Linked DNA regions of Homo sapiens. The gene in region 1 interacts genetically with each later gene. Each region holds a gene or a part of one and is shown in the gene's direction. Other genes may lie near its edges.

Region 1 (3,650 bases):
ATGGCAAGGAAAAACTGCTTAGTGAAGAACTTAGAAGCTGTGGAGACCTTGGGGTCCACGTCCACCATCTGCTCTGATAAAACTGGAACTCTGACTCAGAACCGGATGACAGTGGCCCACATGTGGTTTGACAATCAAATCCATGAAGCTGATACGACAGAGAATCAGAGTGGTAAGGCCAGGGTTACCACACACCTCAGCCACCTGCTGACTTCGCTTGGTTTTTTTTCTTTTAAGAAATTGCATGAAATTTCTTTTTTTTTTTTAAGCTCATGGCAGCTTTTTCTTTCTTTTTTGTTTTTTTTTTTTTTATCATTTAGTGAAGAGTCAAGGGTATGGGATATTGATTTTTTGCATGTCAGTAGAAACTTTAAATTGCCCTACAAACGTGACTGAAGAATGCCTAAAATGTGATTGGTTTCATTAATTGGGAAATGAGATGTATCACTGCAGATTTCTATGGGACTTTAATAGGAGAACTGAGAACACAGCCTTTGAAGTTAATGCATTGTTGTTCTGTTGTGTTTTCTTGCCTCCATCAGGTGTCTCTTTTGACAAGACTTCAGCTACCTGGCTTGCTCTGTCCAGAATTGCAGGTCTTTGTAACAGGGCAGTGTTTCAGGCTAACCAGGAAAACCTACCTATTCTTAAGGTATGCTCAAGAGTTAACTAATGGAGGGATGTAGACAGCACATGAGAACTGCCATTTGAGTGTTAAAAGTAGCAAATTACCTTTGTGGTCTGTGTGACTGTTCACTGTAGAACACCTGGAGTGGTCTGTGCAGTACTTTGCTGTGTGTAACTTACATTGTGTTGCCTGTAGATCCTGATGTATTATAGGACCCCCTGCTCCATATAGGTTGATTAAAAAGGGAAGATGCAGTAAAAATCTGACCAAAGTGGGAGGGGAGGAGACGGAAGACAGTCTTTATTGGTGAAAAACCTAATTCATCTGCTTTTACTACTCTTGAGTTTATATGTTATCACCTAACCTAGTGGACAGTGAGAGCTGAGGGCTGCAGTGACTCCATAATCGTATTTGCATATTAGGATACAGTAGATTCCAGTAACTCCTTTAAGCCATTTATTTTCCTGAAATAGCTCAGCTTATCTTATCTTATTGGTTCTTAGCTTGTTTACTAATGATGTAAAAATAAGCTCCAGGCCAAAATAAGCCCAGCCTTAGCCTGTGGAATTCTGATGCAGTTTGAAATGATTGAGATTTTACTATGCTGCCCAAGTGAAGATGCAGTCTCAGAAGGATCATGAATTGTACAAAGTCCTGTAGGAGAAGAAAGCTATGTGAGGCTCTCTGGGTCCCACATTCTCTGTGAAGCTGCCTGTAGTAGTTGTGGGTATAAACTAAGTTGCCAAAGGGAATATGGCTTGGATGTAACTCAGATGCCTTCTGTGATGAGGATAGGGTTCATTTATTCTGCAAAGGAGATTTTCTTGGCATTGAATTGATGTTGATTTGAGGATAATGTTGTGTATCTTGAGGATAAAACTTGAGATAAATGTTTCATGTTTTTCTTTACCTCAAAGTGGAAATGTTCTAGGCTTTGAGCATCAGGTCCCACAAGTATCAAATCTTTCCTGATTAAAAAACCCCAGAAAGGTAGCAGAAGCTGTATTCCAAGTATTTCTGGAGTTCGGCCATGTTGATGGCATTATTACTAAAAAGCGGGGAGGGAGAAGCAGCCCTATTCTGCTTTTATTAAAAATGGCTTTTATTAAAATAAGTGGCTTTTATTTAAAATGTCCCCCACTTATTTTGTGTTTCTTTCCAAACCCAGCCAACTTTCTTGCTCTGTGGAGCTGCTATACTTCTGAGCATTGATCTGTTCATCTGCATATGCAGCCTTACATGTTAAGGTTCTAAAAGGTTTACCTATATAAAATTTGTTTACAACTGAAAATGCTTTCAGTATGTCAAAATATAAGTGTGTCATCATGTATCATAGAAAATATGTGTGTCACTGAAGCATGGGCTTTAACTAAAATGTTACGTGGTTCGATTTTATTACTGTTGGAGTTGGTAATAGCTTTCAGTTCACATCCTTCAGGCCCAGTTAATTTTGCACAGTTATGATTAGAATGCACAGTCTTCTACTTTGCCCTTGACACAGGCAGCTTGTCCCCAGTCCTGAGACCTTAAGCATTTTCTTACGAATTCTACGGTAATGAAAGGTGCTATAAATGTTTAATCTCTCACTTGGTATTTTCAGATAAGTAACCAGAAGTAGGTAGTTGGGAATAGCATTGGCTTTGAGACTTTTCAGTAGGCCAGGGGAAGATAGAAATAGACTGCAGTAGGTTGGAAGGGTGTGTTAATACCTCTTCTAGGGAAGGTGACACCTTCCCACACCCTTCTTTCACTAGAAGCTGCTGTGGGGTGGGGAAGGACGTTGGGGTTTGAGTCTGAAGCACTGTGAACAGCAGTGGTCGGGGCTAGAGGGACTCCTGTCCCACTTAACACCGCTGCTTCCTTCTTGCCCATCCTCTGCTACCTCTGACAAGATTGGAATGTGTCTTGAGTTATTTTTCCTGTTTTTTAGTGATGCCTCAGTGAAATTTTTTGGAGATAATTTACAGATGATGTCTCTGTTCACAGCGGGCAGTTGCAGGAGATGCCTCTGAGTCAGCACTCTTAAAGTGCATAGAGCTGTGCTGTGGTTCCGTGAAGGAGATGAGAGAAAGATACGCCAAAATCGTCGAGATACCCTTCAACTCCACCAACAAGTACCAGGTCTGAAGATCGATGGGTACACGGAGGGCGAGGGCAAGCTGGGGGACAAAGAGGGGAGGTACATGAGCAGGAAGAGGAAATATTCTCCCTTTGGAGTTTTATAAGCTTTAGCTTTAAATTTTGCCCTTGATTACCATAGAATGCCATAATTTAGTTGAATATCAGCAGGATAAATGAAGCCTCTTGCAAAACACTGTTGAGCCCTTTTGAATACTTGTGGTTTGGGGTGGGTGTGGGCATGTGGGGAGGTGGCTGGAGGTATGTGTACACAAGTGTTCCCCAATCCCTGTGTTCTGAAATTTCGTATGTTCTTTTTTAATGTGAACAAATGTCAGGAATTTATGAATATATCATAGTGCTCATTTTTTTTTTTTTCTGTAGCATTCAAAGTATGTTACAGGTGTAAGATACTTCAGAGTTCAGAAAGAAGGGATCTTGGGTCTTTTATAGCAAATACTAAATAGTAAGTGAAGCTTTGTTTTCCACCATGGACTGCCACACATCCAACCATCCAATGTTTATGTCTCAACAATCCTTCACAGTTGTCTATTCATAAGAACCCCAACACATCGGAGCCCCAACACCTGTTGGTGATGAAGGGCGCCCCAGAAAGGATCCTAGACCGTTGCAGCTCTATCCTCCTCCACGGCAAGGAGCAGCCCCTGGATGAGGAGCTGAAAGACGCCTTTCAGAACGCCTATTTGGAGCTGGGGGGCCTCGGAGAACGAGTCCTAGGTATGCAGATAACCTGGTAACAGAGTGCCTGGGCACGTTTTTATCCAGTAACCTAGTCTGGTAGACAGTTAACAAGTGATCCTATGAACCTCTATGTCTTGTTGACCTTCCTCTACATCTTTTAGGGGCAATCCTCCTATTTGTTTATTTGCCCCCTATTATTTTG
Region 2 (3,650 bases), on another chromosome or scaffold:
GCTTGGGCGACAGAGCAAGACTCAGTCTCAAAAAAAAAAGAAAACATAGGATAACATCTTCAGGACCTAGGGCTAGGTAAGCAGTTCTTAGACATGACACCAAAAAATTCATAAAAGAAAACAATAATTGGACTCCATAAAAGTTCAAAACTGGCCAGGCGTGGTGGCTCACGCCTGTAATCCCAGCATTTTGGGAGGCCGAGGCGGGCAGATCACAAGGTCAGGAGTTCGATACCAGCCTGACCAACATGGTGAAACCCCATCTCTACTAGAAATACAAAAATTAGCTGGGCGTGGTGATGTGCACCTGTAATCCCAGCTACTCAGGAGGCTGAGGCAGGAGAATCGCTTGAACTTGGGAGGCGGAGGTTGCAGTGAGCCGAGATTGCGCCACAGCAAGCCAGCCTGGGAGACAGAGTGAGACTCTGTCTCAAGAAAAAAAAAAAAGTTTGAAACTTAGCTCTGTGAAAGACCCTGTAAAGAGGGTGAAAAGTTTAGCCACAGACTGGGAGAAAATATTTGCAAATCACATATTCAAAGAAGGGCTTGTATCCAGGTTATGTAAAGAAATCTCTGAACTCAAGAGGTTGGGTGCGGTGGCTCATGCCTGTAATCCCAGAACTTTGGGAGGCCGAGGCAGGTGGATCACTTGAGGCTAGGAGTTTGAGGCCAGCCTGGCTAACATGGTGAAACCCTGTCTCTACTAAAAATACAAAAATTAGCCGGTGTGGTGGTGGGTGCCTGTAGTTCAAGCTACACCAGAGGCTTAGGCAGGAGAATCACTTGAATCTGGGAGGCAGAGGTTGCAGTGAGATCGCGGCACTGCACTCCAGCCTGGGCAACAGAGTGACACTCTGTTGCAAAAAAAAAAAGAACTCTCTAAACTCAAGAAAGCAAACAATACAATTAGAAAATAGGGGAAAAAGCTTGTGCGGTGGTGCATGCCTGTAATCCCAGCTACTAGGGAAACAGAGGCAGGAGGCTTCCTTGAACCCAAGAGTTTGACTTCAAGGCTGCAGTGAGCTATGATTGTACCACTGCACTCTAGCCTTGGCAACAGAGCAAGACTTTGTCACTTAAAAAACAAAAAAGAAGAAGAAAGAAAAGAAAATGGGCTAAAAGAAAAACCTATAAAGGTAGCAAGTAAGCATATGAAAAGATGTTCAACATTATTAGCCTTTTGGGAAATGCAAATTAAAATCACAATGGGATGTTGAGGTGATCGGGCCCAACACCAGGCCCTGAGGGCTACAAAGTCTGGCGGGGTCAAAGGAATGAGAAAAGACAAGTTAAGAGTTCATAAGGTGTGTCCAGAGGGCCAGCGCTAGATTGGAGGCTGCAAAGGCCCCGAGCTCTGGGAACCCGCCCTATTTATTGGTGATCAAACAAAGAAGCAGGTGGTGAGGACATGAGGGTAAACAGGTGAGGGCATGAGGAGGTGAGAGTAGAAAGGTAGTGGTGCATTAAGTGTAGCTGTGACGGTTTAGCACTTCCTTTGACCCATATAGAATATGCTCTGCTGCTTGAGATAATGGAGGGCATGTTTACAAGAAAGAAGCAAGGAACCAACAAGTCTGTGCACATTCCAGAGGCTACGAGGGGTTTATGCCCTGAGCCCTGGATTCCATCAAAGCCACAAGGGGTTTTATGCCCTGGGCTTAGATTTGTGGTGCGGCAGTGTAGCCTTCCACCCTTTGGCACAGAGCTTGGTGTTCCAAAGGCCACGAGGGGTTTCAGACCCTGGATCCCGGACATCTTCCAAGACTCTTTTACATTATGACAGACAAGCCAGTCCTGCCTCAGCTCTTCTACCAACAATGGGATACTACTATGTACCAATTAGAATGGCTAAAATAAAAAATATAATATGTAATTCTAGTAACGATGCAGATAAACTAGATTTCTCATGCATTGCTGATGGGAATGTAAAATGGTTCGGCCCCTCTGGAAAACAGCATAACAATTTCTTATAAAATTAAACATACGACTGGGCACAGTGGCTCACGCCTGTAATCCCAGCACTTTGGGAGGCTGAGGCAGGCAGATCACTTGAGTCCAGGATTTCAAGACCAGCCTGGGCAATGTGGCAAAATGCTGTCTCTACAAAATATATAAAAAATTAGTTGGGTGTGGTGGTGCACACCTGTGGTCCCAGCTACTTGGGAGGTTGAGGTAAGAGGATCACTTGAGCGCGGAAGTTGGAGGCTGCAGTGAGCCATGATCGTGCCATTGCACTTCAGCGTGGGTGACAGAGTCAGTCCCTGTCTCAATCAATCAGTTGATTGATCAATCAGTTTAAACATACACTTACCATGTAGCCCAGCAATCAGACTCCTGAGCATTTATTCCAGAGAAATAAAAACTTATGTCCATACCAAAACCTATACACAAATGTTTGTGGCAGTCTTATTTGTAATAGGCTGCCATAACCTATAGAATTATAGGTTGAAAATCCTACATATATGTATTTCTCCTTTGCAGTTAAGTTTCTTGTATTAATGCCATTTTCATTCCACAGCTTGGATAGGGCTGTGTGTTCTTTCTAGAGGAAAGATCCTTTCTTTAGAATGATGTTCCATAATTTCACCTTGATGGTTTTTGGAGTGGAGAATGAAGGCCTTCTTAACTTAATCCTATATCCTTTATTTTGGGATGATTTTGTGTGTTATTTCTTCAGTATCATGGTTCCCACCATTTTTCTCTCTCATGTTGGAATTTTGTAGTTGGTCATTGTGAATTGATTCCTCAACATTCTTCCCCCTACATTCATAGTTTTCCTTTCTTTAATTTATCCTCTACATATATACTGTTTGTTATACTGTTTTAATTCTGTCTTTAATTATTTCCCAACTGGAAACAACCCACATATCCTAGTGAGTGGTTGAACAAACTGTGGTCCATACATAACAACGAAATGCTACCCAACAATAAAAAGAAATGAACCACTGATACAACAACTTGGGTGAATCTCAGATGAATTATTCTGAGTGAAAAAAGTCAATCTCATTCATCAAAAAATTAAAAATAGAATTACCATATGACCCAACAATTCTGCTTCTGGGTGTGTTTCCAAAAGAATTGAAAGCAGTGTCTCAAAGAGATATTTGTATACCCATGTTCATAGCAGCAGTATTCACAGTAGCCAAGAGGTAGAAGCAACCCAGTTGTCCATTGATGGTTGATAGGATTAACAAAATGTGGTATATATTACCATGGAATATTATTCAGCCTTAAAAAACAAGGAGGGACCAGGCACAGTGGCTCATGCCTGTAATCCCAACACTTTGGGAAGCTGAGGTGGGAGGATCACTTGAGGCCAGGAGTTTGAGACCAGCTTGGGCAACACAGTGAGACCCCATCTCTATAAAAAAATAAATTAACTAGACATGGTGGCTCCTAAAAATAAGTTGGCTAGACAGCTGCTCTAGAGGCCAAAGTGGGAGGATCGTTTGAGCCCACGTGTTTGAGGTTGCACACGTGTCATAATATGGATGAACCTGGAGGACATTATGCTGAGTGAAATATGGAGGACATTATGCTAAGTGAAATAAGCCAGTCACAAAAGGACAAATACTGTGTGATTCCACTTATATAAAGTGTCTAGAGTAGTCAAATTTAGAGAAATGGTGTGTAGAAACAGAAAGGTGGTC
Region 3 (3,650 bases), on another chromosome or scaffold:
TGCCCCAGCGCCCCCTGGGAAGACAGGGCCTGCAGTTGCCAAGGCCCAGGCGGGGAAGCGGGAGGAGGACTCGCAGAGCAGCAGCGAGGAATCGGACAGTGAGGAGGAGGCGCCTGCTCAGGTGAGGCAGAGGGGAGGGGTGGAGAGTAGCCCCATGCCTAAACCCCAGCACCTGCATGGGTGTGGCCACCTTTGCCACATCCAGCTCCTGTCTCCACACGTCCACCCTCTGGGCTCTCCCCTCATCCTGTTTCTCACTCCAGGCGAAGCCTTCAGGGAAGGCCCCCCAGGTCAGAGCCGCCTCGGCCCCTGCCAAGGAGTCCCCCAGGAAAGGGGCTGCCCCAGCACCTCCTAGGAAAACAGGGCCTGCAGCCGCCCAGGTCCAGGTGGGGAAGCAGGAGGAGGACTCAAGAAGCAGCAGCGAGGAGTCAGACAGTGACAGAGAGGCACTGGCAGCCATGAATGCAGCTCAGGTGAGGCTGGAAGCCGCCCTGCATGGCCTGTGCCCTGCCTCAAAAGACCTCCTGTGGTTTTGACTTTTCCTCTCTGAACCTAGAGCCCTGTGCGGCTGGCTTCGTTTGCTCTCCTCCCCTCACTCACATTCTCCTTCTGGACTCCCTCCCTAATCTTGTCCTTTGTGTCTCCCAGGTGAAGCCCTTGGGGAAAAGCCCCCAGGTGAAACCTGCCTCTACCATGGGCATGGGGCCCTTGGGGAAAGGCGCCGGCCCAGTGCCACCCGGGAAGGTGGGGCCTGCAACCCCCTCAGCCCAGGTGGGGAAGTGGGAGGAGGACTCAGAGAGCAGTAGTGAGGAGTCATCAGACAGCAGTGATGGAGAGGTGCCCACAGCTGTGGCCCCGGCTCAGGTGAGGCCCCTTCCTGTAAGGCTCTTTCTTTTTCCCCCCCACTCAGAGTGGAGCTGCCTGTGGCCTCCCAACCTCACACTGGGACTCTGTCTACAATCTTAGTTTCTTAATGTCTGCACACACCTACCCTGGGCTCCCTCTCCCGATCCTGTGTATCTCACTCCAGGAAAAGTCCTTGGGGAACATCCTCCAGGCCAAACCCACCTCCAGTCCTGCCAAGGGGCCCCCTCAGAAGGCAGGGCCTGTAGCCGTCCAGGTCAAGGCTGAAAAGCCCATGGACAACTCGGAGAGCAGCGAGGAGTCATCGGACAGTGCGGACAGTGAGGAGGCACCAGCAGCCATGACTGCAGCTCAGGTGAGGCCTGGGGAAGGAGGCTGCTACATGGCCTGATCTGCCACACCACAGTCAGCACCCCCGGGGAGCTGTGCTCCCTCAGGCAGAGCATGGGTTTTGGCTGGTGGGGCAGAACAGATGGGGGACTCTGAGTTCAGGAACCTTCTCCAGCCTTTCTTTGGTGTCCCCTCAGGCAAAACCAGCTCTGAAAATTCCTCAGACCAAGGCCTGCCCAAAGAAAACCAATACCACTGCATCTGCCAAGGTCGCCCCTGTGCGAGTGGGCACCCAAGCCCCCCGGAAAGCAGGAACTGCGACTTCTCCAGCAGGCTCATCCCCAGCTGTGGCTGGGGGCACCCAGAGACCAGCAGAGGATTCTTCAAGCAGTGAGGAATCAGATAGTGAGGAAGAGAAGACAGGTCTTGCAGTAACCGTGGGACAGGTGAGGCCTGTGTTTTCTGGGCGGGCCTCAGGGCCGCCCCTACGTGGTCCTTTGGACTCCTGGAGACACCTCTCTTCCCCTTGTCATCCCAGGCAAAGTCTGTGGGGAAAGGCCTCCAGGTGAAAGCAGCCTCAGTGCCTGTCAAGGGGTCCTTGGGGCAAGGGACTGCTCCAGTACTCCCTGGGAAGACGGGGCCTACAGTCACCCAGGTGAAAGCTGAAAAGCAGGAAGACTCTGAGAGCAGTGAGGAGGAATCAGACAGTGAGGAAGCAGCTGCATCTCCAGCACAGGTGAGGCCTAGAAGGAGCAGGCCCATCCCACCCACACCTGTTCCTGAGCCAGGGCTGAGGATGGGCTTGACTGGGGGCTAGTGTTGCCTGCAGGTGTGCAGAAGCCTCAGAGGTAGCCTCAACACAGCTTCCTTCCCTATCTTTCACTCCATGTCTCCTCTGCCCATCAGAGCTCCAGGGTCTCTGTCTTGTTTGCCTTTTGAGGTCCTCCTGCTGATTGATTCCCTGTGGTTTTCACAAGCTCTGGAGTTCCCACCCTGCCAGGTGCTGCCCTTGTCTGGGGTTGCTGAGGCGCTGTTCCTCAGGGAAGTCCTGTCTCTGTGGAGCATGGACATGCTCCTGCAGTGTGGAGCGATGGGGTTGAGATAGAGGGTGTGAGCCTGGGCTGCGCAGCATGACAGGTGAGAGCATCTAGGCCTTTTACAGGAGGTGGCAGCATCTGAGCCATGGGCTGAAAGAGTTGGCCAGGTGAAATGGGCAGGGAGAGTGTTCCAGGCAGAGGAAGCAGTCTGTGCGAGGCCAGGGAATGAGAGAGTGCCTGGCTTGGGTGCCTTGCCACAGGCGGCACATTGTGGTGGGATGGCTGGCAGTTGTTTAGAGCCAGACCGCCTGGGTTCAAGTTTCAGCTCCACAGCCTGGCAAGTGCTGTAAGCCCTCAGAGCCCTTACTCTCCTATAAACAGGAAATCAGCCCTCACAGGTTTGGGTGAGAATTTAGGTGAGATCTCACCTGCTACACCCAGCAAGGGAGCTGCACACAGCAAGTTGTCTCTGTCACCCTGACGATGGGCCAGGCTAATGTGGAACAGATCAGGAGTGAGGTCTCCAAGCCTGGAAGAGCTGAGAGAAGATGGCTCACTCCCTGCACTCACCCACCCACTGTTTATTATTTTTAATTGTCGCTCTGTTTTTTTCTGTAACCACTCAGAAATTAGTCATTTCTTTTTTCTCTGTACCAGAGCACACATTTCTACTGATTTTTTTTTGTCCTCCTCTCGTTGACTTGTGGGACCTCAGGGCTCTAGAATTCCTCCATTGAGGTTTTTAAGCTCTGCAGGGGCCCCTTCCAGAGCCGCCTCTACTCTTTCCCAAGCTGCAGGCACATTCCAGACCCAATGCCTTACAGAGTTTCATTATGCAGCTCACTTAAATATTTGTCTTCCCTTCTGAGCCTCCCACCTGTACCATGAGGTGGGTGTTTTATTTTTATTTTTTGAACCATGGGCTATTTTGAAGTAAGCCGTTTAATTTCCAAATATCTGGGATTACCCAGGTTTCTTTTTGTTGATTTCTAATTTAGTCACATTGTGGTTGGAGAACATATTTTGTATGATTTAAATCCTTTTTTGTGTATTGAGACTTGTTAGGTCAAGTCAGTCTTGTGTCTTGTTTCTTGTGGAAAACATGGCTCCCCTCTGGAGGATTTACGTGCTCTACTGATGAGCACCTCGGCCTGAGTCATACTTGGTCCACACTGTAGGGAATCTTCTTGAAGTCCTGATTCTTCACCTCATTTGACCTCATGTGTTTGAGGAATGCTGGGGGATGGGGTTGTTTTCTGACACTGACCAGATGCCATCCCTGAGTGAGGCAGGGGCCTTGAGATGCTGCCAGAGTCCTCATTCTGTTTCACATTAGGCTTGCTGTCACTCCTGTTAAGGATCTCACTCTGGGAATTTCCCTTTTTTTTTGTTCTCCTTCTATTTGTTGGAATCCCTGAC

The links.
Region 2: changes in ATP1A1 (region 1) and PDSS2 together harm fitness more than expected from each alone (negative genetic interaction), as found in Homo sapiens cells (one large-scale study listed by BioGRID).
Region 3: changes in ATP1A1 (region 1) and TCOF1 together harm fitness more than expected from each alone (negative genetic interaction), as found in Homo sapiens cells (one large-scale study listed by BioGRID).

What each region holds. Positions count from the first base shown.
Region 1 is NC_000001.11:116,390,240-116,393,889, forward strand, and holds part of ATP1A1 (sodium/potassium-transporting ATPase subunit alpha-1), read left to right. Parts: coding exon 1-172; intron 173-542; coding exon 543-652; intron 653-2,614; coding exon 2,615-2,749; exon of another isoform or gene 2,750-2,787; intron 2,788-3,291; coding exon 3,292-3,484; intron 3,485-3,650. UniProt on the Homo sapiens protein: This is the catalytic component of the active enzyme, which catalyzes the hydrolysis of ATP coupled with the exchange of sodium and potassium ions across the plasma membrane.
Region 2 is NC_000006.12:107,449,467-107,453,116, reverse strand, and holds part of PDSS2 (all trans-polyprenyl-diphosphate synthase PDSS2), read left to right. Parts: intron 1-3,650. UniProt on the Homo sapiens protein: Heterotetrameric enzyme that catalyzes the condensation of farnesyl diphosphate (FPP), which acts as a primer, and isopentenyl diphosphate (IPP) to produce prenyl diphosphates of varying chain lengths and participates in the determination of the side chain of ubiquinone.
Region 3 is NC_000005.10:150,374,691-150,378,340, forward strand, and holds part of TCOF1 (treacle protein), read left to right. Parts: coding exon 1-121; intron 122-263; coding exon 264-473; intron 474-648; coding exon 649-864; intron 865-1,030; coding exon 1,031-1,219; intron 1,220-1,391; coding exon 1,392-1,640; intron 1,641-1,732; coding exon 1,733-1,930; intron 1,931-3,650.